Homo sapiens: one gene and its partners. The protein of the gene in region 2 interacts with the protein of the main gene of each other region in a pairwise test. Each region holds a gene or a part of one and is shown on either strand. Other genes may lie near its edges. The genes, in order: TSR2, DAPL1, FNDC3B and LSM1.

Region 1 (7,765 bases), on a different chromosome or scaffold from region 2:
CCTGTGCTCCTTTCTCCCTGGGCATTGCACAGAGATAGATTTATCGTAGAACAAATCAATCTTAAGCATCAGGGCCCCACACTTGCACAGGCCACTTCCAGGTCTCTGGTTATTGAGCCTGGTCTATTTGAAGAATGTTTAAGATTTGTCGCTGTGCCAAGAGAAGTTAAAATAACCTGAAATCTTACAGCTCACATGTAAAAGAAACTAGAAATTTTCCCAAGTTTGACAAAAATCTTAAAATGTACATTACTAATAATGAGTTGTGAAATTGAAACTTTTCTAAAATACTAATAATAAAAAATTTTACTCAACTGAATTGAAATCAATTGAATTCTTTGTGTTCTCTCTAGAAAATATAAAATACTTGTCATATGAAGAGTTCTATAAACTCTTTGATATCAAAAAATGTAGAAAAATTAGTAGAGAGGTGAGTCATGTAATTAATAAGAATATTTTATTTTGGCAGGGCGTGGTGGCTCATGCCTGTAATCCCAGCACTTTGGGATGCTGAGGCAGGCGGCTCACCTGAGGTCAGGAGTTTGAGACCAGCCTGGCCAACATGGTGAAACCTTGCATCTACAAAACAAAAACAAAACAACAAAGTAATATTTTATTTTTCTGGGTTAGAAGATGTTTGTGACATTTGTCAGTTTTTAAAAATTTGTAATTTGTAAATTAGATTTCTAATTTTAAGGAAATACTTTCATCAATAAATCAACAAATAAGTAAAGTGTACAATTCAATGGCTTTTAGTATAGTTTCTTCTGATTTGCTCCTTGGCTTTCTCCTTAGCTTTCTCACTGTGTGTTCACATAGTTGTCCCTGTGTGTACACCTCTCTGGTGTCCCTCTTTGCCTGTGTCCTCATCTCCTCTTATTATTATATTTTGTTGTTTTTTGTTTTTGAGACAGGGCTTGTTCTGTCACTCATGCTGGAGTGCAGTGGTACAATCATGGCTCACGGCAGCCTCAACCTCCTGGACTCAAGTGATCCTCCCTCCTCAGTCTCCTGAGTAGCTGGGACTACAGCCATCACACTCAGCTAATTAAAAAAAAAATTTTTTTGTAGAGATGGGGGGTCTTGCTTTGTTGCCCAGGATGGTCTCGAACTCCTGGCCTCAAGTGATCTGAGCCATTGCACCGAGTTCTAATCTCCCCTTCTTTATAAGGACATCAGTCATAACGGATTAGGGCCCACCCATGCAACCTCATTTTATCTTAATTACCTTTTTAAAGGCTCTATCTCCCAATACAGTCACATTCTGAGGTACTGGGGGTTAGGGTTTCTACATATGAATTTGGGGGGTGGTGGATACAATTTAGCTCATAACAGCAACCATTACCTCGTCTAATTTTTAGAACATTTTCGACACCCCCAAAAGTAGCCCTGAAGCCATTTAGAAGTCACACTCTATTCTTTCCCCATCCAAGCCCTGGGCAACCATTCATGTATTTTCTGTCTCTATAGATTTACCTATTCTGTATATTTCATATAAATGGTATCATACAATATGTGGTCTTTTTTGACTGGTCGGTAATTATACGTCCTCTTTCGTTCCTGATTTCAGTAATTTGAGTCTTCTTTCTTTTATTTCTTCCTCAGTCTAGCTAAGGGTTTGTAAATTTTGTTGATCTTTTCAAATAACTGACTTGGCCAGTTGCATTTGCTCACACCTGTAATCCCAGCATTTTGAGAGGCGAGGCAGGTGGATCGCTTGAAACCAGGAGTTCAAGACCAGCCTGGGCAACAAAGTGAGACACCCCCTCCCAACACACACACACACACACACACACACACACACACACACACACACAACCACACACACACACACACACACACACTAGCCAGGCATGGTGGCCTATTCCTGTAGTCCCAGCTAATCAGGAGGCAGAGGCAGGAGGATCCTTTGAGCCCAGGAGTTTGAGGCTGCAGTGAGCAATGTTTGTGCCACTGCATTCCAGCCTGGGCAACAAAAAAAGACTTCATCTCTGAAAAAAAAATAACCGCCCAGGTCCGGTGGCTCACGCCTGTAATCCAAACACTTGGGAAGGCTGAGGTGGGCAGCTCACTTGAGGTCAGGAGTTCAAGACCAGCCTGGCCAACATGGTGAAACCCTGTCTCTACTAAAAATACAAAAATTAACGGGGCATGGTGGCATATGCCTGTAATCCCAGCTACTCTGGAGGCTGAGGCAGGAGACTCCTTTGAACCTGGGAGGCAGAGGTTGTAGTGAGCTGAGATTGCACCACTGCACTTCAGCCTGGGTGACAGCACCAGACTCCATCTCAAAACAAACAAACAAACAAACAAAAAACAACAACTGACTTTTGGCTTCACTGTTTTTTCTTTTCTCTATTGTTTTTCAATTCTCTATTTCATTTATTTCTGTTCTATTATTTATTATTTCCTTTCTTATGCTTGCCTTGGGATTACTTTGCTCTTCTTTTTCTGGTTTTGTGAAGTGGAAGTGTAGGTTATTAATTTGATATCATTCTTTCATTTTTTATTTTTTTGAGACAGGGTCTTGCTCTGTCCCCCATGCTGGAGTGCAGTGGCACAATCACGGCTCACTGCAGCCTTGAGCTCCCAGGCTCAAGCAATCCTCCCACCTCAGCCTCCTGAGTGGCTGGTACTACACGCATATGCCACTATGCCCATCTAATTTTGTTTGTTCGTTTGTTTGTTTGAGACAGAGTCTCACTGTGTCGCCCAGGCTGGAGTGCAGTGGAGTGATCTCAGCTCACTGCAACCTCTGCCTACCGGGTTCAAGCGATTCTCGTGCTTCAGCCTCCCAAGTAGCTGGGATTACAGGTGTGTGTCACCATGCCTGGCTAACTTTTGCATTTTTAGTAGAGACAGGGTTTGTTCATATTGACCATGCTGGTCTCAAACTCCTGACCTCAGGTGATCTGCCCACCCAAAGTGCGGGAATTATAGGTGTGAGCCACCATGCCTGGCCTAGTTTTCAAATTTATTTATTTATTTAGTTTGAGACAGAGTCTCACTCTGTTTCCCAGGCTGGAGTGCAATGGCACCATCTCGGCTCACTGTAACCTCCGCCTCCCGGGTTCAAGCCATTCTCCTGCCTCAGCCTCCCAAGTAGCTGGGATTACAGGTGCTTGCCACCAGACCTGGCTAATTTTTGTATTTTTAGTAGAGACGGGGTTTCACCATCTTGGCCAGGCTGGTCTCGAACTCCTGACCTCAAGTGATCTGCCTGCCTTGGCCTCCCAAAGTGCTGTGATTACAAGCGTGAGCCACCACACCTGGCCTAATTTTTAAAATTGTTTTTAGAGATGGGGTCTCACTATGTTGCCCAGGCTGGTCTTGAACTCCTGAGCTCAAGCCATCCTCCCGCATCAACCTCCCAAAGTGCTATGATTACAGGCATGAGCCACCATGTCCGGCTCTTCTTTTTAGATATGCATGTTTACAGCTAAAGATTTCCCTCTAAGTTTTGCTTTAGCTGCATCTCATGCATTTTTTTATGTTTTTGTTTTCATTCATTTAAAAGTGTTTTCTAATTTGCTTTGTGATTTTTTTCTTTGACCCATTTATTGCTTAGGAGTGTGTTAATTTCCATATATTTGTGAATTTTGTAAGTTTCTTTTTACTGATTTTTAACTTCTTTCCATTGTGGTCAGACAACATACTTTGTATGTTCAATCCTGTTAAATCTATGGAGGCCTACTGTATGGCCTAGTGTATGATCTGTTCTGGAGAATGTTCTTGTGTACTTCAGAAAAACATGTACAGTTATCCCTGGGTATCCGTGGGAGACTGGTTCCACGACCTCCGGAGGATACCAAAATTCATAGATGCTCAAGTCCCTGATATAAAATGGCATAGTATTTGCGTATAACCTATGAATATTCTACTGTATACTTTAAATCATTTCCAGATGTGACTCACGCCTATAATCCCAGCAATTTGGGAGGCTGAGGCAAGTGGATTAAACCCAGGAGTTCGAGACCAGCCTGGGCAACATGGCGAAACCCTGTCTCTACTAAAAACACAAAAATTAGCTGGGAGTGGTGGTGGGCACCTGTAATCTCAGGTACTCGGGAGGCTGAGGCACGAGAATTGCTTGAAACCAGGAGACGGAGGTTGCAGTCAGCCGAGATGGCGCCACTGCACTCCAGCCTGGGCCACAGAGTGACACTCGGTCTCAAAAAAATAGATAAATAAATAATTTCCAGGTTACTTATAATGCCTAATAAAGTGTAAATGCTATGTATATAGCTGTTATACTGTACTGTTTAGGAGAATAATGTCAAGAAAAAAAGTATACACATGTTCAATGCAGATGCAATTTTTTCCTGAATATTTTCCATCTGAGGTTAGTTGAATTCACGGACGTGGACTGCCCCCCATAGGGAGAGCTGATTGTATTTTACTGTTGTTGGTTGCAGTATTCTATACAGATGTTAGGATGCTTTTTTTAAATGCAGATTTTTAAGGCTATACTCACTGAGTCCTCTGCCCCAGGGCCTGGAATCTGTATCTGTAATAAGTTCCCCACATATTTCCTCCGCAGTACCCACGGATCCGGAAACCATGGCCCCACACGTCCTTCAGGTCTGGTGTCCTTTGATTTAAGTGAGTAACTCTGGTGGTGTCATCGATCGCTCTGACAGATTTTTCTTTTGCTCTAGTCTTGCTGCCAGGTCTGCGGAAAAGAGAATCCTGTGTTCTCAGGCTCGGCTTGCGTCTCGTTCTGCCTGGGCCGAGCTACAGAGGGATTGGGCCGCCGGGACGTCACGTGGACTGGGGCCGGATAATGGCGGGCGCTGCAGAAGATGCGCGAGCTCTTTTCCGGGCTGGGGTCTGCGCGGCCCTGGAGGCCTGGCCGGCCTTGCAGGTCAGTGGGGCCAGGGCCAGGGCAAGGTCAAGGTTAGGGCCCGGGGCAGAACAGGAGTTGGTTGGGCTAGGTGCCTGAGGCTTGGCTAGGCGGCATAAGAGGAGTTGGCTGGGCGGCGTAAGCGGCCTCCAGGCTACTCCAGGTCTGCTCCCAAGCTGACTTGGTGGGCTTGGACCTGTGTTTACAGATCGCTGTGGAGAATGGCTTCGGGGGTGTGCACAGCCAGGAGAAGGCCAAGTGGCTGGGGGGTGCAGTGGAGGATTACTTCATGCGCAATGGTGAGTGAATGTGAGGCGCCGCGACCCGCCTGTGTGGGGGTGTGGAGAGGAGGAGCCCCATCCCGCAGAGCCTGCATTTCCTCTCGAGCAGTTGTGGATTGGTACCTAAAGGTGAGGTGGAATGAATTCAGCTTTTAGAATCAGAATCCTGGATTCCAGTGCTTTACGGGCTGTACCACTGACTCGTGGGATTACTCTGGACAAGGCAGTTTACCTCCCTGAGACTCAGTTTCCTAGTTTCTAAAATGCGTATAAAAGTATCCACCAGAGCGCTGTACAGTAGAAATATTATGCTAGTCACATATAATTTAAAATTTTTTAGTAGCCACTTTAATAAAGCAAAAAGCAGATGAAATCAATGTTAGTAAACTCGGTGTGTATGAAATATTTCAACATGTAGTCAGTATAAAACATTGAGATATTTTACATTTTTTAGTATTAAGTTTTCAAAATCTGGTATTTTACAGTTTTAGCACATTTCGATTTGGCCTAGCCATATTTCAAGTGCTCAGTAACCACCTGTGGCTGTTTGGACAGCAAAGATCTACACTGTAGGCTCGTCTTGAGGGATATACAAGAACAAGAGGCCCAGTAGAGGGCCTGTTGCATAGTATGGTTTTTAAAAAAATCTTCATTCAATTTCTAGCTTTGGAGATGACATTAGGCAGAGTCATCTCTCTCAAGAAAGTATACTATCCATTGAGGATCCACACACGTAAATAGTTACAACATTGATAGATTTTCTGATAAAGAGGAGCTCAGGGTGCATGGGGTAACAGGATGGGGAGACAGCTTCTTAGTGGAGGTGGTGAATTGGGCTGGGTCTTAGTGAGAAGGAGTTAACTAGGTGGGGGAAGCAGAGAGAGCAACACTCAAGTTCTGTGGCATGAGGGTATAATGTGTTATATTTGGAAAGTAGCAGGGAGCTCAGTATTGGAGTATGGGCGTGTGTGCGTGGGGGGTGGAGGAGTGGTAGAGAATGAAGCTGGGGTGTGGGAAGCCCCCTTGAAAAGCATAAGACATGGAAGCCCTTATGTGCCTTTGATTTTATCATTTAGGCCAGTGTTTGCCAAAATTCATGCTAACTAGTTCTGTTAGATGTTCAGTGAAGAAGCTTCTCCAGTTACCTTATGTAAGAAAAACTCTTGTTCTGCTCCCACTGAAAAGTCTTAACACTCATGAACATATTAAAGGCTTGGGTAAGAATAAGAACCACTAAAAAACCTGTTTGCTTTTGTTTCTCATTAGCTTTCTATGGATAGTGTCCCTTAAGACCCAGCAGAACAGATATTTCTCAAAGGCAAACTGTGAAACACTGCAGTGGCTGGTAAAAATTCGTGGGCAGGTTCTAGGGTGAGAAATAGGATGGGATTTGCTGGCTAGAAAGTTCAGGAAATAATCAGTATGAAGCATAACCTGGAGAGGGAAAGACTGATGAGAACGCTGTTTTTGTCTAGAAACTGATGAGGCCTGAAGTAGGACAGTGGCAACAGGCATGGAAAAGAAGGGGTGGAATAGGGCCTTGGAGATTGGTTGGCTGTAGACAGGGAGGGAAAAAGAGGCAAGTTCCTGGTTTGAGTTGATGGGTGGATTAGGTGTCTTTTCTCGGAGTAGAGGAACCCTGGAGGATGCGAAGCAGGTTTAAAGAGTAAGGTGATGAGTCTGGCTTTAGATATGGAAGATCTGCGGCATCTGTGAAACGTCCAGGCACAGAGTAGTCTCAGTTGGAGATAAATTCGGGGGATATTAAGTTTGAGTGGTAGGGAAAGCCAAGAGTGTGGATGAGCTCTCCCAGAGAAAGCACATAGAGGGGAGAGGGCTAGGAGCTTTGTGGGAGACTTTCTTGAGTTACTGTCTAATTCAGAAAAAGTAGAGCATAGGCCCATAGGTAACTGAAGCCCAGAGAGGAAGGTGGCTCAGTCAGAGTCACACAGTAGGATGTCAGTGTCAAGGCTATGATGATTTCATCATTGGAATTACTATGTCCATTTCTTCTTAACTATCCCATTGGTCTGTGGCTTCTTTTATCAGTGGAACCACAGTTGTGAAGGTTCTCTTCACTTCAAAAACTTCAGCTTTTGCATGATAGAAATTAACATGGATCATGGATCTTCACTGTGCTAGGCATTGTGTTGGATGGTTCCTCATAACAGACCTTTGAGGAGGCCACCATTAGCCCCACTTTACAGATGAGAAAACTGAGGCTCAGAAAGAAGTAGCTTGCTCAAGGTCTCATAGAGGGGAGGCTAGTTAGAATAGTCCAGATGAAAGAGGGTGAGTGTAGGGCTGGGAGTTGTGGAAAGAGGCCTTGGTAGGATGGAAGAGATTGGAAATGAGGTATTAATATTTAGTGGTTCTTTAAAAAATTATGTTAAAACCTGGAATGCAGAACACTTTAGCAGATAAAAGGCAGGATGGAAGAGATTGGAAATGAGGTATTTTTAGTGGTTCTTAAAAAATTGTTAAAACCTGGAATGCAGAACACTTTAGCAGATAAAAGGCTCACTGTGCCTTTACCCACCCAGTTGCAGATCCACCAAGTAGATATTGAAGAGCAGTGGGCAGGGGTGATGAAGTTGGCTGGTCTTTGACCCAAGGGCCCTGTCCTTTTCTACTTAGCTGA
Region 2 (7,707 bases):
GTGAGGGTTTTCAAATGACCGTGGTCCATATGCAGTTTATGGTTGTCCCCCATTTTCTGCATTAGTTTTACAATTGGTCATACTCCCCCTCCAACTTCCTTCTCTCTTTAATGAGTCAGAAAACATATTCTCTTTAGGGATTCAGTGGCAACACCTCTAATGGCTCTGATTCATTTGGCTTAGACCCAATTAAAAAGTGCAGGAAATATAGAAAAAGTCATGAACCACTGCTCTTCTTTCTATTCATCATATATCTGGCTTCCTGGGGTCAACTTCTACTCACACATTTTTGGTGCTGCTGTTCATATAATGGGGTTCTTCTGAAAGTGAGGGTGAGACAAATCAAAAAAGCAGAAAATTCCAAGTTCTTCTTACTGGAGCCCAGGCCACCTTGTGTTTTATGTAGTCTCATTTCACAGCATAAATGTATAACTAGGGCTATCAGAGATGCAATATATTATATTAATATACATTAAAGTGAAACCATTGACTGCTCCATAGATAGGTAGGAAAGAGATGCAGCAGGCTGACTTCTAAGTGATTTTTTTTTTTTTCAGACGGGGTCTCACTCTTGTTGCCCAGGCTGGAGTGCAGTGGCGTGATCTCTGCTCACCGCAATCTCTGCCTCCTGGGTTCAAGCGATTCTTCTGCCTCAGCCTCCCAAGTAGCTGGGATTACAGGCACATGCCCCACGCCCGGCTAATTTTTGTATTTTTAATAGAGATGGAGTTTCACCATGTTGGCCAGGCTGGTCTTGAACTCCTGACCTCAGGTGATCCACCCACCTCGGCCTCCCAAAGTGCTGGGATTACAGGCGTGAGCTACTGTACCCAGCTGAGTGATTTCATTTTTAACTGTGATGGGATAGGCACATATTTTTTCCATTGCAGTTTCTTTCTGTTCCAACTACTGCAGTAGTGTCTAATGCCGCTCCAGCATCAGGATGTCTTGAAATTGGGGAGGATAATTTCTTTTGATAGTGATGTGTTCTACCGGGCCTGCATTTTAAGGGGGCTAACATTCAGGTGCCAGATACTTTACAGAGGTGATCTCTTTTAATCATTACAACAAACTTACTAGATAGATGTTATTTATTGCATCCTGTTTCAGAGATGAGGAAACTCAGGCTCGAAGATGTGAAATGAAGTTGAGGTTCAAACCCAGGTCTGTCTGATTCCAAAGGCTATGTATGTCCCACCCTCCCCACCGAATCGTATCTTCTTCCCACTTTTAGGGATCTGTATTTTGCTTATAAAAATCAAGTGAAAAATTAACAGAATTTTGGCACTTGTTTTTGTTCCATAAATAAAATTTTGCACCACCACAAACAGATTCAGACTTAAAATTAGTGGCAAGACAGGCTGAAGGATGACACTTCTTTGTTCCCTTGTGCTCAGTGGGGAGGCAAAAGTCTGCCTTCATCTCCATTCTAATTATCCAAAACCTCTTATCTGTAGTGTCACAGTTCATAATAATTAATTGTCATGCCAGAGGCATTGTGACATGCTTGATGGAGTCATGGTGTGCTATGTACACAGAGTAATTAGCAATCATTAGTGGTGGGGACAGAAAGTTCCCGGTGGTTTCATTCGAACTTTCATTTGGTTAAGTTTATGTCTGTGTTCTTTGTGCATAAATGTAGTTTAGCAAAACAGGTTTCATCTTAGCCATTTTATGAAGGGTTGGAGTGGAAACAACATAATGAGAATGGAGTTCTTTTTTCTTTTGTCTTTGTCTATGTAAGGAGCCTGTCTTCCAATGATTTGCATATATACTTCCTGACTATTAGCTAGCATAATTAACTTTAAATATAGGTAATGTTAAATATTGCTAAATTTGATTACAAATATAAAACATCAGTAATCTACCAGAGGAGATCAGACCAAGATGTCTAGAGCTGGAAACTCAGAATGAGTAGTAAAATCTGGACTCTTTTTGGCCAGGCTACCCGCCGGAAAGCCACCAAAACAATGTTACATTTTGACTCTCTGTGAAGACAATACCCGCCATCACCCTCTGCAGCAAAGATTATTGAAATAACCTTGGCCTAGAGGTGCCAGAGAATTAGACAGTAAATATGTTTTTGTAAATGGAGAAAGGCAAGAACAAAGCAGTCAAGCTTTTGAGTTCTTTCTTCAGTAAAAAAGAAGGAAGGCAGTTGGAAGAATATAAAACTGACTAAAAATAGGCCTGTACACCTCAGCCAATCTATATGAACATATGGTTAAGTACAATAAAACTAATTTCCATATTCCAGAGAGTCAATATAGATAGCATAAATTAAAAAAAAAGACAACTATGGATGCTTTGCAAACACCTTGACAGCTACTTTTTCCAGTCAGCCTCCTCAAGTCCTGTGTCTTTATTTAAAAGTACTTCTCAGCTTGTTGACAGGTAAATACATCCCCAAAGCCTGAGGAGGGAGAAAGAAATGTGATTGTTGTCCTCTGTGCAGAAGCTGCTTTGCCTGGGTAGGAAGTCACATGATGCACAGGCATCTTGGGGAGACTGAGTCTTACAGCTGGAACCTCTAAAGAGAAAGGTTTCCATGGTAGCAAATCATCTTCCTGGTGTAGATGTGTCACTGCTAATCTACAGCCAGGGCCCCGTGAAAGGAATGCTGCCTCGAGGGAGGAAAGGTGCAACCTCTCTACCTATGCCTTTCCACAAGCCCCAAATCCATACACTGCCGTAGGTAATTAGGTTTTAACTCACTGGGGGTCTGACAAATCCCCGGGTGGATTTACATACAAGCTAAGAAGGATCAAAGACATAAGAGGAAGTCAGGCTGCATGGAGTTAAAGTCATACTGGGTAGACAGAGAAGCTTCCGTCTGTCGGGGTGCTCCATGGAAGGCATTGGTGGAAGAGGGGAGCAGCAACAGCCTGCAGGACTGAGGGCAGGTGGCAGCCTACCTGCAGGAGGATGTCCCCCTTTCCGAGGGGAGAGCAGGTCTTGCACTTCATTTGCCATAGCGTGTGCCAGTGCCAGTGCCAGTGCTGGTGCTCTGGAGGCTGAATGCCAGCTGTGGCTGCCCCACCACCGCACCGGCTTTATAAAGGCAGGGGGCAGGGCCCCTTAAGGGCATTGCTGAGCAGCAACAGGGCTTGTCATCCAGCTCTCTGGGAAACCTGCATCTCCTTGGCAAGTTTTCTCTTAGAAGAAGACTTTCTTCTTCCCTTCATCTGGGAAGGCAAGGTAGATGTCTGCAGGAGACAGGATATTCTTTTCTTTCTTTTTTTTCCACAGGAGGAAAGGGAGAGGATGGAGTTCAGTGGAATTCTTTTTCTCTCCAACCGTTGATCCCTCAAGTGTGTATAGTGCACCTGCAATGTAACAGGCTTTTGTCATATTCTGGCATGACAAGGGGGCCAAGACAAGCTCTTTGCTTCAGGACATCTGTAGTCTTTCTAAAGAGACAGGTATAGAGCAAAGTCCTGTGCCTCTGTCCCAGTTTTTGCAATTATAAGCATTTATACTAAGAAAATAATTGGAAATGTATACAGAGATTTCTGCGCAAGGATGGGAATCATATGCTTCTTTTCTTTTTAAAATATTGATGGGAATCAAGATAAACATCTCCAAATACAGAGGGATAGTTAAGATGAATCAAGAAATCACTGTGAGAGTATACCTTACAATCATGTTTTCAAATAATATTTAATGATGTAGAAATATTAACGATAAGATAGTGAAAAAGTAGACAAGAAACCAATCAATGCCAATTTTGCTAAAAAGGAAAAATACAACTTTAAGCTTAGCCATTATTGTAATTCCAGCGCCAATAAAAGTTTAGCATGTGGCAGATATTTATAAAAATTTCTTTGTTCTTCAGTACAGTTAAAAAACAACTTGAAGAGCAGTTGTCTGCTCTTCGAAAAACCCTGTTAAGAAAATAAAAACAAGCTACAAACTGGGAGAAAATATCTGTAAAATGCATTTCTGATGAAGTACCGACATTTAGAATGTATAAAGAATTCTTACAACTCAATAATAAGAAAGCAGACAACCCAATTAAAAATGGGCAAAAGATTCAAATAAAACATTACAAAGTAAGGATATTGACAACACATAATCACACAAAAAGATGCTCGACATCATTAGTCATTAGGGAAATGCAAATTAAAGCCACAATAAAATACCACTACATATGTATTAGGATGGCTCAAGACAAGAAAAAAAAGGAAAATACAAAATGCTGGTGAAGACGCAGAGCAACTGAAACTCTCATACATTGCTGGGGGAAACGCAAAAAAGCAAAGGTGTTCTGGAAGTCAGTTTGACAGTTTCTTATAAAATTCAACATACACTTACTATATATGACTAACAATCCAATTGCTAGGAATTCTCCCAAGAGTGATGAAAACATATGTACACACAAAACCCTATGTGCAAATGTTTATAACAGCTCTATCAGGATTGCCAAAAGTTAGAAACAACTCCGAAGTTCAACTGTAGAATGGGTAAACAGATTGTGGTGTATCTATATCATAGAATATAACTCAGCAATAAAAAGGGAAACATGGATGAATCTCAAAAGCAACACGTTAAATGGAAGAACCCAGACTAAAAAAAGCTACTTCCTATATAATTCCATGTACATGACATTCTTGAACAGTTGAAACCCTAGGAACAGAAATTGGATCAGTGATTGCTGGAGAGCGGTTGGGGAGAGTGGCTTAATTACAAAGGTGAGGAGGTGACTTTTTGAGGGTGATGGAAATAATTTGTATCTTGATTGTAGTGGTTGTTACATTCATCATACGTCATACACACATCACCTTAAAAGGGTGAATTTTACCATATGCAAAATATGCCTCAACAAATGACAAAAAATCTGTTTGTAAATAAATGAATGTAAATACTCCAAAATGTTAAGAGTGGCATTCTGTAGGTGGGAGTATTACATGTGGATTTTTAAATCTTCTTTCAGTATTCTGTATTACTTTTTAAATAAATAAAAACTAATAAAAGTTTTTTTTGAGGGAAAAGTATGGTAAAGTGTTGCGACAAAGGTTGGCACATTTTTGGGAGCAAAGAGGAAACATTCATATCATCTAGCAGTTATTTTGTGAGTGGCCTTTCCTGCAGGGCCCTGGACTAGGAGCTGGGGTTCAGAGATGAGAAAATCTCATTCTTGCTTTCAGCGATCTCACATTCTCATGCGGATATGGACATGATGAGAAGGTTAACAGAATTCCTTCTATGATTGACAAGGTTTATTGTGGCATTATTCCTCAGAAATTTCTGAGAAGATGGAAATGTTTGTATCTGCTCTGACCAGTGTTGTAGCCACAAGCCACACATTCATTTGAGCACTTGAAATGTGGCTGGTGCAACTGAAAAATTGAATTTTTAATTTATTTAAAATTAAATAGTTTTAATTAATAGAAATAGGAATAGCTACATGTGGCATGTGACTCTGGTATTGGACAGCATAGGTAGGTAGCATAAAGCCTAGATGTGTGACTGTTTGGTACCAGATTTTATTGGTTATCTTCTATATCTATAAGCTGCGAAAGTGCAAAAGGCAAGGAGGAAATCAAAGGGCAACCACCCCTTAGGAGAGCCTGCACCTAGGACAGCCTAAGTGATGTGGAGGAATGAGTGGTTGGACCAGAATATAATGCATGCCCAAGCAGAGAAGGCTTCTTTGGGGCAAATACTCGATTTATCCATGAAGTAATGTTAAACAGGATTTCTTTTCACATCATTCGCATGTAAAGCCTTCAGTTCACAGATGTACATTGTGACCCTCCCCAGGGGGATTTAGTAGGCAGCATCCGCAGAGCATTTTTCATCATGAAAACGTTCGTTCTCATGGCCCTAAAAAAAACCCTTAGAGGGCCAGGATTGGTGGTGCACGCCTGTAATCCCAGCACTTTGGGCAGCTGAGGCCAGCCTATTGCTTGAGCCCAGAAGTTAAGAGACCAGCCTCCTGGGCAACATGGAGAAACCCCATCTCTAAAAAAAATATAATACAAAAATTAGCCAGGAGTGGTGGCACACGCTTCTGGTCCCAGCTACTTGGGAGGCTGGGGTGGGAGGATTGCTTGAGCCCAGGAGGTCAAGGCTGCAGTGAGCCAAGATCATGCCTCTGCATTCCAGCCTGGGCGATAGACTGAGAGCCTGTCTCAAAAACAGAAACCAACCAACAAAAACCCCCTAGAATTTGTGTTCTTGGCTTGGTGGGGTGTTGTGCACCTGGAGTCCCAGCTACTTGGGGAAGCTGAGTTGGGAGTATTGCTTGAGCCCAGGAATTCAACGGCAACATAGCAAGGCCTATCTCAAAATAAATAAATAAGAAAGAAAGAGAGAAAGGAAGGAAGGAAGGAAGAGAGAGAGAGAGAGAGAGAGAGAAAGAAAGAAAGAAAGAAAGAAAGAGAGAAAGAAAGAAAGAGAGAAAGAAAGAAAGAGAGAAAGAAAGAAAGAAAGAAAGAAAGAAAGAAAGAAAGAAAGAAAGAAAGAAAGAAAAAGAAAGAAAGAAAGAAGGAAAGAAAGAAGGGAGGAAAGAATTTGTGCTCTTGAAATCCAAGTTGGAAAATTCTGATCTAAGGGAACGGGAGTAGTGGTATCCACAGGGTGATGGTAAAAGGTAAGTGGCAAAAGCAAAAATGAGGCCAATGTGGCCTCCTCTGGGCCCCGCCCAGCACAGCCTTCCTGCCCTGCCACTCTTTCTGCTTCCACTGGAGGAGGCCCAGGGTCCCAACTCTGTCTCCCTCTGTGTGTGCTTAGGAGCACAGGGCAGCCCCAAAGTGGGGTGGGGTCTTCCCTTGCCTTCTCTTTATGTTCGTCATGAAAAGCCCAGGCCTGTTTTGTACACTGTGAGGTAAGTGGAGCCCAAGTGATTTACTCTGGGGACATACTGGAGCTTCCATCAGGGTGAAAGTCTCATGGAAAGAAGACAACATGTTATTACTCTTTAAATGGGCTTATAAAGCTCACTTTAAAAATGGCATCAGTCGAGTTAACTGCAACAGGAGAGCAGTTCATGCTAGGACCAAAGTATTTGAAATTGTGCTTTGTAATGCAAAAAGCCTAGTAAAATGGATTCTCACGACGTTGAGGTTGCCAGAGAGCTTTCTGTCTTAAAATGAAAGGATGCTTTAACATTAATCATATTTTAAAATCATACAACACTTTCATCGTAGTATTGCACTTTCTTCTTTTAATTTGTATGTGGGAGACATTACCTTCCTCATGCACCTGTATATTTGCAGGGTGCATCTAATTTTTATATTTTCTTTTTTCTCTTAACATTAGTTACATGCTGTACCTTATGCTAAGTTCTGAAAGTATGAGAAATCTATGTTAGAAATCAGGGGCAAGAAAGCTAACTGGGAGGGTGGTGACTCTTAGGTGGTGGGGTGGTGTCTTAATTTGTTTTCTATTGCTTACAACAGAATACCTGAAACTTGGTAATTTATAAAAATAAGCAGCTGGGCATGGTGGCTCATGCCTGTAATCCCAGTACATTGGGAGGTCAAGGCTGGAGGATTGCTTGAGTCTAGGAGTTTGAGACCAGCCTGTGCAATGTGACAAAACCCTATCTCTACAAAACATGCAAAAATTTAGCCAGGTGTGGTGGCGCATGCCTGTAGCCCCAGGTACTCAGGAGGCTGGGGCAGGAGGATCACTAGGCAGAGGTTGCAGAGAGCCAAGATCTCGCCACTGCCTGAGGGATAGAGTGAGACCCTGTATCAAAAC
Region 3 (2,629 bases), on a different chromosome or scaffold from region 2:
TTTGCAAACTGATGGCATCAAGGTAAATATATTTTTGCCAAAGTTCTGGCCTTCCAAAACTCACCCCCTTATTTAAATGTGTGCTATGACCCACTATGACCACAGCATCTGCATTTTCTAAAAAATTCCATGCAGGTGTTTTGGGGAGAGGTATTTTTTAAGCAATGAAAATTCAACTGAGTACAAAGCCCCCTCTTGGGGGGTTGGGGAAGTCTCTTTTTTGAAACACTTCAGAACTGCTGCTATAAAGAAATTCTCTAATTGGTTGAATTTTTTTTTTAAGTAAATAGTACTTTAGGCCAAAATTTATATGAATATTTGATCTTCTTGAGATTTTCATACTATCATTTAACCACCAGGAAGCTGAAGTGTGTGAAGTACAAAGCTGACAGCACTTTATTTTATTGCTCTCCATTATTTGGTATTCATTATATTCCTTCAGTCAGAAAATTATTACTCTCTATGGCACTGTTTTTTATCACAAATATGTATATGTGATATTGATATATAACTATATATATTGCCATCACACACGAACAATAAAATAAAGTGTTCTATTAACCTGATCTCTTTGCCCTTTTGCTATGTGAGGAGTGAATGAGTGGCCTTCTGATGCTCTGACTCTTCTCTGTATGTCAAACTCATCCCTGGCACAAGAAATTCCAGTCATGTGAAGCAAACTGCCCTTTGTCCTCAAAGAAATTGTTGAAAAAGAAAACTTTTTAAAGAGATTTTTTGCATATTCTCTGCCTTGTTCTTATCAACTTGAAATGTTGGCATTTTCTAACCTTGTTTTGTTGGCTACAATAATTCAGTATTCATGTCAAAATTGAGAAGTGCCCTAATTGAATGTGTTTGAATGTTATCCTTGCACAATTCTTTAAATTGAAAGATAAAATGTTTTACCTCACTGTTGGACATACATTCCAAGCTTTTCAACTCTAGGAGAAAAAGAAAATCATGTTTTCCTGTATTGTAAATTTTAGACTATTTCATATACATTGTATTAAAACTGCCATATCAATTTTAATGTATAGATTTTGCAAATATTATGCTATATGTAATACCTAACTGTATCTGTAGTGTATATGTAATATATTTATGCCCAATAAATGTTTTAATTCTTTCTGACTTAAATAGGGTTTTTCTGCCATGACTAGGATTGCTTTTGTTGTTGTTGTTGTTGTTTCTTTCTTTTTTTTTTTTTTTGAGACGGAGTCTTGCTCTGTCGCCAGGCTGGAGTGCAGTGGCGCGATCTCAGCTCACTGCAACCTCCAGCTCCCAGGTTCAAGTGATTCCCCTGCCTCAGCCTCCCAAGTAGCTGGGGATTACAGGCACTCGCCACCATGCCCGGATAATTTTTTTTTTTTTTTTGAGTTGGAGTCTTGCTCTGTCGCCCAGGCTGGAGTGCAGTGACCCAATCTCGGCTCACTGCAAGCTCCACCTCCCGGGTTCATGCCATTCTCCTGCCTCAGCCTCCCAAGTAGCTGGGACTACAGGTGCCCGCCACCACGCCCGGCTAATTTTTTTAATTTTAGTAGAGTCGGGGTTTCACCATGTTGGCCAAGATGGTCTCGATCTGACCTCGTGATCTGCCCGCCTCGGCCTCCCAAAGTGCTGGGATTACAGGTGTGAGCCCCCGCACCCAGCCTTATTCTTCCCTTTTAAATACTTAAAGCACATTCAGATTAGTTGAAAATTCACGTGTTTTTGGAGGCCAGGCAGGTGGCCTTCTGCAGAGACAGCAGCAGCTCAGCTCTTGCTGACCAAGGCCTTGGAGGACTGTGAGCCACAATCACATATGTCCATGTTTCAAAAGAAGCTAAATATCCAGATTTCCTCCATGGGCCAACTAAAAGGTGATTGTGGACTATACAGGCTGCCAGTTTAATCCTTTATCAGAGTCTCTGTGGATAATGTACCTTGTTGCCTAATACTTTATCTGTCTACCAAAACTCAGTCCAGATCTCCCTCTGTTCACCTGGCACACTGGGTGCTTCCTCTCCCCTGACGAACTCTATAGAGTGTTCATGTCCTTTCCTGCAGGTCTCATTCAACAACAACAACAACAACAGCAATAAAACACAGTGTTCCTGCTATGGCCATGGTTTTGTGATTTTAGATTGTCTTAGTAGGAATTCCCACTATCTCTTTTATTTTTCAGGAAAATGGGTAAAAAAAACTGTCACTTTATTGAACCTCACTTATATGAAGCATGGTAATTATTCTGGGTAAAGATGACAAATTGAGCACATCAAATTTTGAATGCTCCTGACACCACTAAAAGTAAAGGATTTTTTATTTTTTTAAGTCACAACTCAACCCTCAAGACTGGGAAGAAAGAGGAGTTATTGGCACCAGAATTTTGGAAATATGATCAACAAAACTTAATTCTAATTTGGCAGAGGAGAAAATGAGCATCAGTGTTTTTATTCTCAATGCAGGATACCCTAAAGGCTCAAAAATTGACAGCAACATATCCCTTTGAAGTGATAGTGAAGAGAGAGAGGAGGCTAAAATAGTATTGGTTGAAAGCTGTTTAAAATGCAGTTAGATCAATAAAATCCCTCCCCCTTTTTTTTTTCAGCTGGACAAAAATGTCCCTCCTCCCCACCCACCTCCATCACTC
Region 4 (7,037 bases), on a different chromosome or scaffold from region 2:
GAAGTCAAATCCAGATGCAGCCTGCGCCCAGTACTTTTCTGACTTTATCTACTGTTCTTTCCCTTCACACCCTCAGCTTTTAGCTAAACATGGATGTATAGCCCTTTTTTCCTCCTCTTTAATTTACAGATTTCCTTCTCCCCCCCCGCCCCCTTCCTATCACTCTTCTTGTGCCCTAAAATTATCTACCTTTTAAGGTCCAACTCTGATACCTCCTTCAGAAATACAGTTTCTCTCTCTGTAGTCTCATATAATTAAGATTTGCTTTCTGTGGTACTTATTTATAGCGCAAGGAAGAGTATAAATTCCTTCAGGGCAGAGTCACTGTGTTTTTCCTCTGTTCTGCATCTAGAAAGTACTTTAGGCATGGAATGAAAGAAATTTTGCTGGGTGCGCTAGTAACTGGCTTATTTTCATTCTTCAGTGTCAGCTCAAAGTCACCTCTTCAGAGAGGCTTTCCCTTGCCACCCTTCCTTCTGTAACCACTTCTCTCCCTTCATCATACTGCCTTGCTAGTTTATTATTCCATTGTCCTAATCACAATAGGTTATTTTCTTATTTATTTGTCCTCCTCCAACATGAATATAAATTCATAAGGTTGGTGACTTTCTAAGTCTCATTCTCTACTGTATGTCTAGACCCCAGAACAGCACATGCCCCCTCAGTAAACATTGAATTTCTGCTCTAGCTTATTATTAGTCTTCATTTTAAATGCCTGAAGCATTGTGTTTTTATTTAAAGCCTTCTATGGTTACAAACAAAATGTGAGATAGAAGCTCATCTTTTGAGGACAAAATAATTCTACAAATAAGATAATAGTCATCTAGATTAAATTTGTCAATTTACAGATATAAAAACTGACATGACATGAGATGGTTTAAGTGTCAAACATAAGGGTCTTTGGCTAGGCGCCATGGTTCACGCCTGTAATCCCAGCACTTTGGGAGGTGGAGGTGGATGGATCATCTGAAGTCAGGAGTTTGAGACCAGCCTAGCTAACATGGTGATACACCATCTCTACTAAAAATATGAAAATTAGCCAGGCATGGTGGCAAACTCCTGTAGTCCCAGCTACTAAGGAGGCCGATGCAGGAGGATCGCTTGAACCTGGGAGGCAGAGGTTGTAGTAAGCCGAGATTGTGCCACTGCACTGCAGCCTGGGTGACAGAGTGAGACTCTGTCTCAAAAAAAAAAAAAAAGAAAAAAGGAAAAAAAAAAAACCAACATAAGGGTCTAGAGCCAGCTAGTCAGGCTTCCTGGTGCCACGCCCTGTCCTTTTCCCACTCTGCCACACTGCTCTGATTCTTTTCACTACTGATGTTATCTAAATCCGCGTTGCTGTGCTGCTTTTTTCAGTTTTCCAATGAACTTGAACTTCACATTAAATGCATTGGCCGAGGAAGTGGTACAGCTTAAACTGTTAATTATTATCCTAAATACTCGCTGAACTTGTCAGTTTTCATTTAAAAGATTTTTTCCTCTCTCCCCAGAAAAGCACTTGGTTCTGCTTCGAGATGGAAGGACACTTATAGGCTTTTTAAGAAGCATTGATCAATTTGGTATGTATTAATTTATGGACATCTCTTATACTCTGGATAATAACAGCAGCCCATTGCATTTTTTGTTATTTAATATTGAAATTTATCTGCAACTTTTTCACGTGTGTGACCTAGTAGGACTGATTTTAGTGAGTACATCATTGTTTTCTATACATTCAGATTAGGTGGTTCAAAGCTTATATATATTTCCAAGCTCGTTTCTAAAACTGGCTTTCAGTAGAATCCCCAGTAGGGGGAGCCAAATGATAGAAATAAACTCAGTCCACCGAAGAGGCTTGTTTTGTTTTGTTTTGTTTTTTGTTTAGACGCGCTCTCGGTCACCCAGGCTGGAGTGCAGTGGCACAATCTTGGCTCACTGCAACCTCCGCCTCTTGGGTTCAAGTGATTCTTGTGCCTCAGCCTCCCAAGTAGCTGAGATTATAGGCTCCAGCCACCACCCCCAGCTAATTTTTGTATTTTTAGTAGAGACGGGGTTTCGCCATGTTGGCCAGGCTGGTTTCAAACTCCTGACCTTAGGTGATCCACCCACCCAGCTGAGCTGGGCAGTTGTTCTGCTCCTCATGGTTTTAGGACAGTCCCTTGGTGTCTAGAAGGTGAGTCAGCTGGTTTGAAGGAGCTTCACTCACATGTCTGGTGCATCAGTGGGGACAGCTGGAAGGCTGGTCTTAGCTCCCATAGTGCTGAGATTATAGGCGCGAGCCATTGTGCCCGGCCCAAGGCTGCTTATTTCTACATTGGCAGGGTAAAATGACTTCAAAGCAGTTCCGGAAGTGAAGGTAATCCCTCCCTAGCCAATGAAAATTGGGTAGAAGGCATTTCCTTTATTTTAAGGACCCCAACATTAAGCTTAATACTTTACATATAGGGATACATTGGAATAAGAGGCCTCTGTCTTTGTTTCGCATCCTGCATTTTTCTTAAGTTAAAAGATTATGTTTCCTTCTGTTTCAAGGAACTTCATGTTCATGCTAACATTTATTGGATATCTGCGAAATCACTGGATTTGAGCATGAGGAAGAAACGTAATTAAAACACTTAAAAGGATTATGGAAGATATGAACATAGATTTCTCCTTTACTTCAAATAGGACAAGTAGTACTAATTGAAAGAGGAAAAATAATTATTGTTAACAAATTGGAGTCCTGATTCTTAAGTCAGATTCATCAGAGTACTTTGAGGGAAGGGTAGTGGCTATTAAGTTGACTTTTAGATTACAAATATAGTTATCTGTCAAGGTGAAAAAATAGGTTTTTGCTGTATCATAACCCATGGATACCTGCGTTGGGTCAAATGAATCCTAATTACTAAAAGAAAGTTGAATCTTCAGCAGATCATCACATACACACCCACACAAAAAGAAAAGCTGTTTCTTTCCAGAAAACAAAAGTTTTGATCTCTGTGGTTGTTTAGGCCCAAGTTTTCCAAGTTCCTTATTCATTTATATTTTCCTATGGTTTTTTTTGGTATTAGCAATTAACTGATAAAGGAATTTATTTCTCTTATTTCTGCTGTCATTCATGTATTAGCCCAACATAATCCCAGACATCTCCTAACTGGTACGTCTTACTCAATGAAATAGGAGAAGATTATTTGAAATTTTAGCCTTCCCCAGAATTAGAAAGCTTGGGGGCCCGGCACTGTGGCTCACGCCTGTAATCCCAGCACTTTGGAAGGCCGAGGTGGGCGGATCACAAGGCCAGGAGTTCAAGACCAGCCTGGCCAATGTGGTGATCCCTGTCTCTGCTAAAAATACAGAATTAGCCGGGAGTGGTGGCAGGCACCTGTAGTCCCAGCTACTCCGGAATCTGAGGCAGGAGAATTGCTTGAACCAGTAGGCAGAGGTTGCAGTGAGCTGAGATGGCGCCACTGCAGTCCAGCCTGGGTGACAGAGCGAGACTCGGTCTCAAAAAATAAATAAATAAAAATAATTAGAAAGCTTGGAAATCATGTTTACCTAAATCTTTTCAAAATAACTGATTATTGAGTTATGGGCCTTTACCCAGTAGTTTAAACTAAATATCTTTGGTTTTTCCCTATACACTTACAGCAAACTTAGTGCTACATCAGACTGTGGAGCGTATTCATGTGGGCAAAAAATACGGTGATATTCCTCGAGGGATTTTTGTGGTCAGAGGAGAAAATGTGGTCCTACTAGGAGAAATAGTAAGTGAAAACTATTAAGCTGCTGTAGATCTTCATATTCATGCTAGTTAGACTTCTTTTTTTGTCTTTTCAAAAGAGAATAAAAATATTCTCCACATTTATCTGGCTTCTCCTAGGCAACTACCAAATTAATTTAGGGAAGCTACAGAGAATACTTTGTTTCAGTGCCTTAACAAATGTGTTCATTAATATATTTGTTTAATAGCAGAAAATTGACAAAGCTTGATTTATATATGCTGGGGAAGGTGTGTCTTACATACGTTGGAATATTTTGCAGTCATTTAAACAATTGGTTACAAGTGGTTTTTCATGGCATAAAGCTAATGCACAGTATTTCAGGGAAGTACATATTGCCTGTACAGTACAATGTGATATCCATATTAGTAAAGGGGGAAAGGGAAAGAGTAGCTATAGGAAAAGCTTTTCCGTTACCTATCCCGAGAATGGAGTTCAGTCTTACTTGGATCCTTAGCTCACAGCCAGGGAGAGGGTATTTTGGTATCTGTGCCAGAAAGACCAGCTGGCAGGTGAAAGGTTAAATCAGATTTTCTGAGGTATTGTTGCTGTAGGTCTTCGTGTGTGCAGACATACACACACACACCCCTACTAGAAGTACTCAGATTTTTTTTTAAAGTATCTTATTTAAAACCTTTGATTTCATCTTGTTATTTCTGATTATTGGGTTTGCAAGGAAAATAAAAATCTCTTCAAGAGTAGTTGAAATTAAGGGTTGAGCCAGCACTGTCTTCTTTTTTCTTACCAAAAACTTTGGTGTTTGCTTAATTTTTAAAGTTTTTAATACTGTTTTCTAAATACCTAGCCATGTCTTAAATCAGTTTGCAGAAATCTTTAGAGTGGTTTGGTTTGTAGCCATTTTTAACAGCCATTTGAGAAAGCAAGGAGATAATTCTGCTAGGGTTGGGTTGGTTCAGAGACCTCATATTGGAAATAGCTAGAAATGACTAATCCAGACTATCAATACTGCCCAAGTGAAATATATGAAGTATATGAAATATATGAATATATGAAATATATGCTGTGAAATATATGAAATAGCTTTTTCTTACTTATAAAATATTTATAAGTAATACTTATAAAAATTTTTCTTATAAAATATTTTTGTAGTTTGTACTTTTAGTTCAGTGTATCATTTCTTGCATGTTTAAGCAGCAGAAATTGTTTTTTGTTTTTTGGGTTTTTTTTTTTTTTTGGGACAGAGTTTTGCTCCTGTTGCCCAGGCTGGAGTGCAATGGCATGATCTCAGCTCACTGCAACTTCCGCCTCCCAGGTTCAAGTGATTCTCCTGCCTCAGCCTCCCGAGTAGCTGGGATTACAGGTGCCCGCAACCAAGCCCAGCTAATTTTTGTATTTTTAGTAGAGACGGGGTTTCACTATGTTGGCCAGGCTGGTCTCGAACTCCTGACCTCAGGCGATCTACCCGCCTCGGCCTCCCAGTGTGCTGGGATTACAGGCATGAGCCACCGCGCCCAGCCAAGCAGCAGAAATTGTTATCTTCTTGTGTCGCATAAAGGCTGAAACAAGGCCAGGTGCGGTGCCTCACGCCTGTAATCCCAGCACTTCGGGAGGCTGAGGCGGGCGGATCACAAGGTCAGGAGATCGAGACCATCCTGGCTAACACAGTGAAACCCCATCCCTATTAAAATACAAAAAAGTTAGCCGGGTGTGGTGGCGGGCGCCTGTAGTCCCAGCTACTTGGGAGGCTGAGGTAGGAGAATGGCATGAACCCAGGAGGCGGAGCTTGCAGTGAGTCGAGATCGTGCCAGTGCACTCCAGCCTGGGCGACAGAGCAAGATTCCGTCTCAAAAAAAAAAAAAAGTCTGAAAGCACCTAGTACCATGGTACCCATGGGGAGACACTACATGACTGTAAAGTAGTCTGCCAGTATTTTTTTTCTTCCAGAGATGGGGTCTCACTATGTTGCCCAGGCTAGATTCAAACTCCTAGGCTTAGGCAATCCTCCTGTCTCAGCCTCCCAAGTAGCCGGGACTATAGGTACATGCCACTGTGCTTGATACTGCCAGTATATAGGGGAGCTGACCCATCTCTGCATGGTGGGGTTATAGATGATTTTTAAAAATACTTTTCTGAATTTAATTTTGAAGAGGCAACGTATCAGAGGAAAAAACTTAAGTTAAAATACTGGGGTGGGTGCAGTGGCTCACGTCTGTAATCCCAGTACTTTGGGAGGCCGAGGCAGGCAGATCGCTTAAGCTGCAAGAGACCAGCCTGGGCAACATGGCCAAACCCTGTCTTTACAAAAAAATACAAAAATTAGCCAGGGGTGATGGTGCACATCACCAGTCCCAGCTACTTGGGAGGCTGAGGTGGGAGATTCACCTGAGCTCAGGGAGGTCGAGGCTACAGTGAGCCATGATTGTACCACTGCACTCCAACCTGGGTAACAGAGCAAGACCCTTTCTCAAGAAAATATTCACAGATATGCTTCTGTTTTATAGTAGTAAACATAGCAGACATGCTTTTTATACTGGTTACATTGGCACAAAGTTACATCTAAGTAGATGTGTGTGTTTGTGCAGAGAAAGAGGTGAACGTGTTTGTTCTTGAAGTTTAATTGTTTCCTTGGATCCCTTTTGTGAGGAAAAGTTCCCTTTTTTAAAAAAATATGTTATGGTTTGGATGCTGCAGAAGTTTTACAGGGGTACCACTACAGAAACTTGGTTCCAGGAATGCCTGCATTGTTATGTGAATCAGCAATCAGGAGAAATTATGTACCAACCCCAGAGGAATTCATACATAGAAATCAGTTTCTGTAAACACTATATTGGTTAAGAAATCCCTGAATTCTGCCTCAAGGACGATGATGATGACACAGCATTAAGTAATAAGACTGTTGGGAAGAAGCAGCAACAGCAGCATGAATTGCTTAGCAAGTCACATACTGAAAAGCCCAAGAGGCAGTGCATTAGGCCGAGAACACTGTGCTCTCTTTAGCTGCTACTCATGGGTTGGGAGGGCAGGTGGTAATATATACTTTGCTGGGTGCTGTTAACTTTGGACCTAGAGCAGGGCTTGCTTATGTAATTTGTGTGGCTTTCATTGTAACTTCTGTGGTGAGAGTCCTCTCTGACTGATAATGCCACTGCCTGTGAGTTCTGAGACCTTGGCAGCATGTGGTAATAGTATGCAGGGCAGAGCATCTGGAGAAGTGTGTCAGTACCGTCCCAAACTTTTATCATTGAAAGTCATAGAGGAGGGTAAGAAACAGGAATACTTTGTATAGGCTTTCCATCTTACAAAAACACCAAATAATACCTGTACATTCATTTTAAGGAC

Evidence for each region.
Region 1: the proteins of DAPL1 (region 2) and TSR2 interact in binary tests that used the Homo sapiens proteins (3 or more experiments, as listed by UniProt).
Region 3: the proteins of DAPL1 (region 2) and FNDC3B interact in binary tests that used the Homo sapiens proteins (3 or more experiments, as listed by UniProt).
Region 4: the proteins of DAPL1 (region 2) and LSM1 interact in binary tests that used the Homo sapiens proteins (3 or more experiments, as listed by UniProt).

What each region holds. Positions count from the first base shown.
Region 1 is NC_000023.11:54,435,639-54,443,403, forward strand, and holds the start of TSR2 (pre-rRNA-processing protein TSR2 homolog), read left to right. Parts: upstream 1-4,765; 5' UTR 4,766-4,783; coding exon 4,784-4,864; intron 4,865-5,051; coding exon 5,052-5,142; exon of another isoform or gene 5,143-5,253; intron 5,254-7,761; coding exon 7,762-7,765. UniProt on the Homo sapiens protein: May be involved in 20S pre-rRNA processing.
Region 2 is NC_000002.12:158,790,639-158,798,345, reverse strand, and holds the start of DAPL1 (death-associated protein-like 1), read right to left. Parts: upstream 3,030-7,707; 5' UTR 2,974-3,029; coding exon 2,916-2,973; intron 1-2,915. UniProt on the Homo sapiens protein: May play a role in the early stages of epithelial differentiation or in apoptosis.
Region 3 is NC_000003.12:172,399,567-172,402,195, forward strand, and holds the end of FNDC3B (fibronectin type III domain-containing protein 3B), read left to right. Parts: 3' UTR 1-2,103; downstream 2,104-2,629. UniProt on the Homo sapiens protein: May be a positive regulator of adipogenesis.
Region 4 is NC_000008.11:38,166,487-38,173,523, reverse strand, and holds part of LSM1 (U6 snRNA-associated Sm-like protein LSm1), read left to right. Parts: intron 1-1,490; coding exon 1,491-1,559; intron 1,560-3,606; coding exon 3,607-3,722; intron 3,723-7,037. UniProt on the Homo sapiens protein: Plays a role in the degradation of histone mRNAs, the only eukaryotic mRNAs that are not polyadenylated. Probably also part of an LSm subunits-containing complex involved in the general process of mRNA degradation.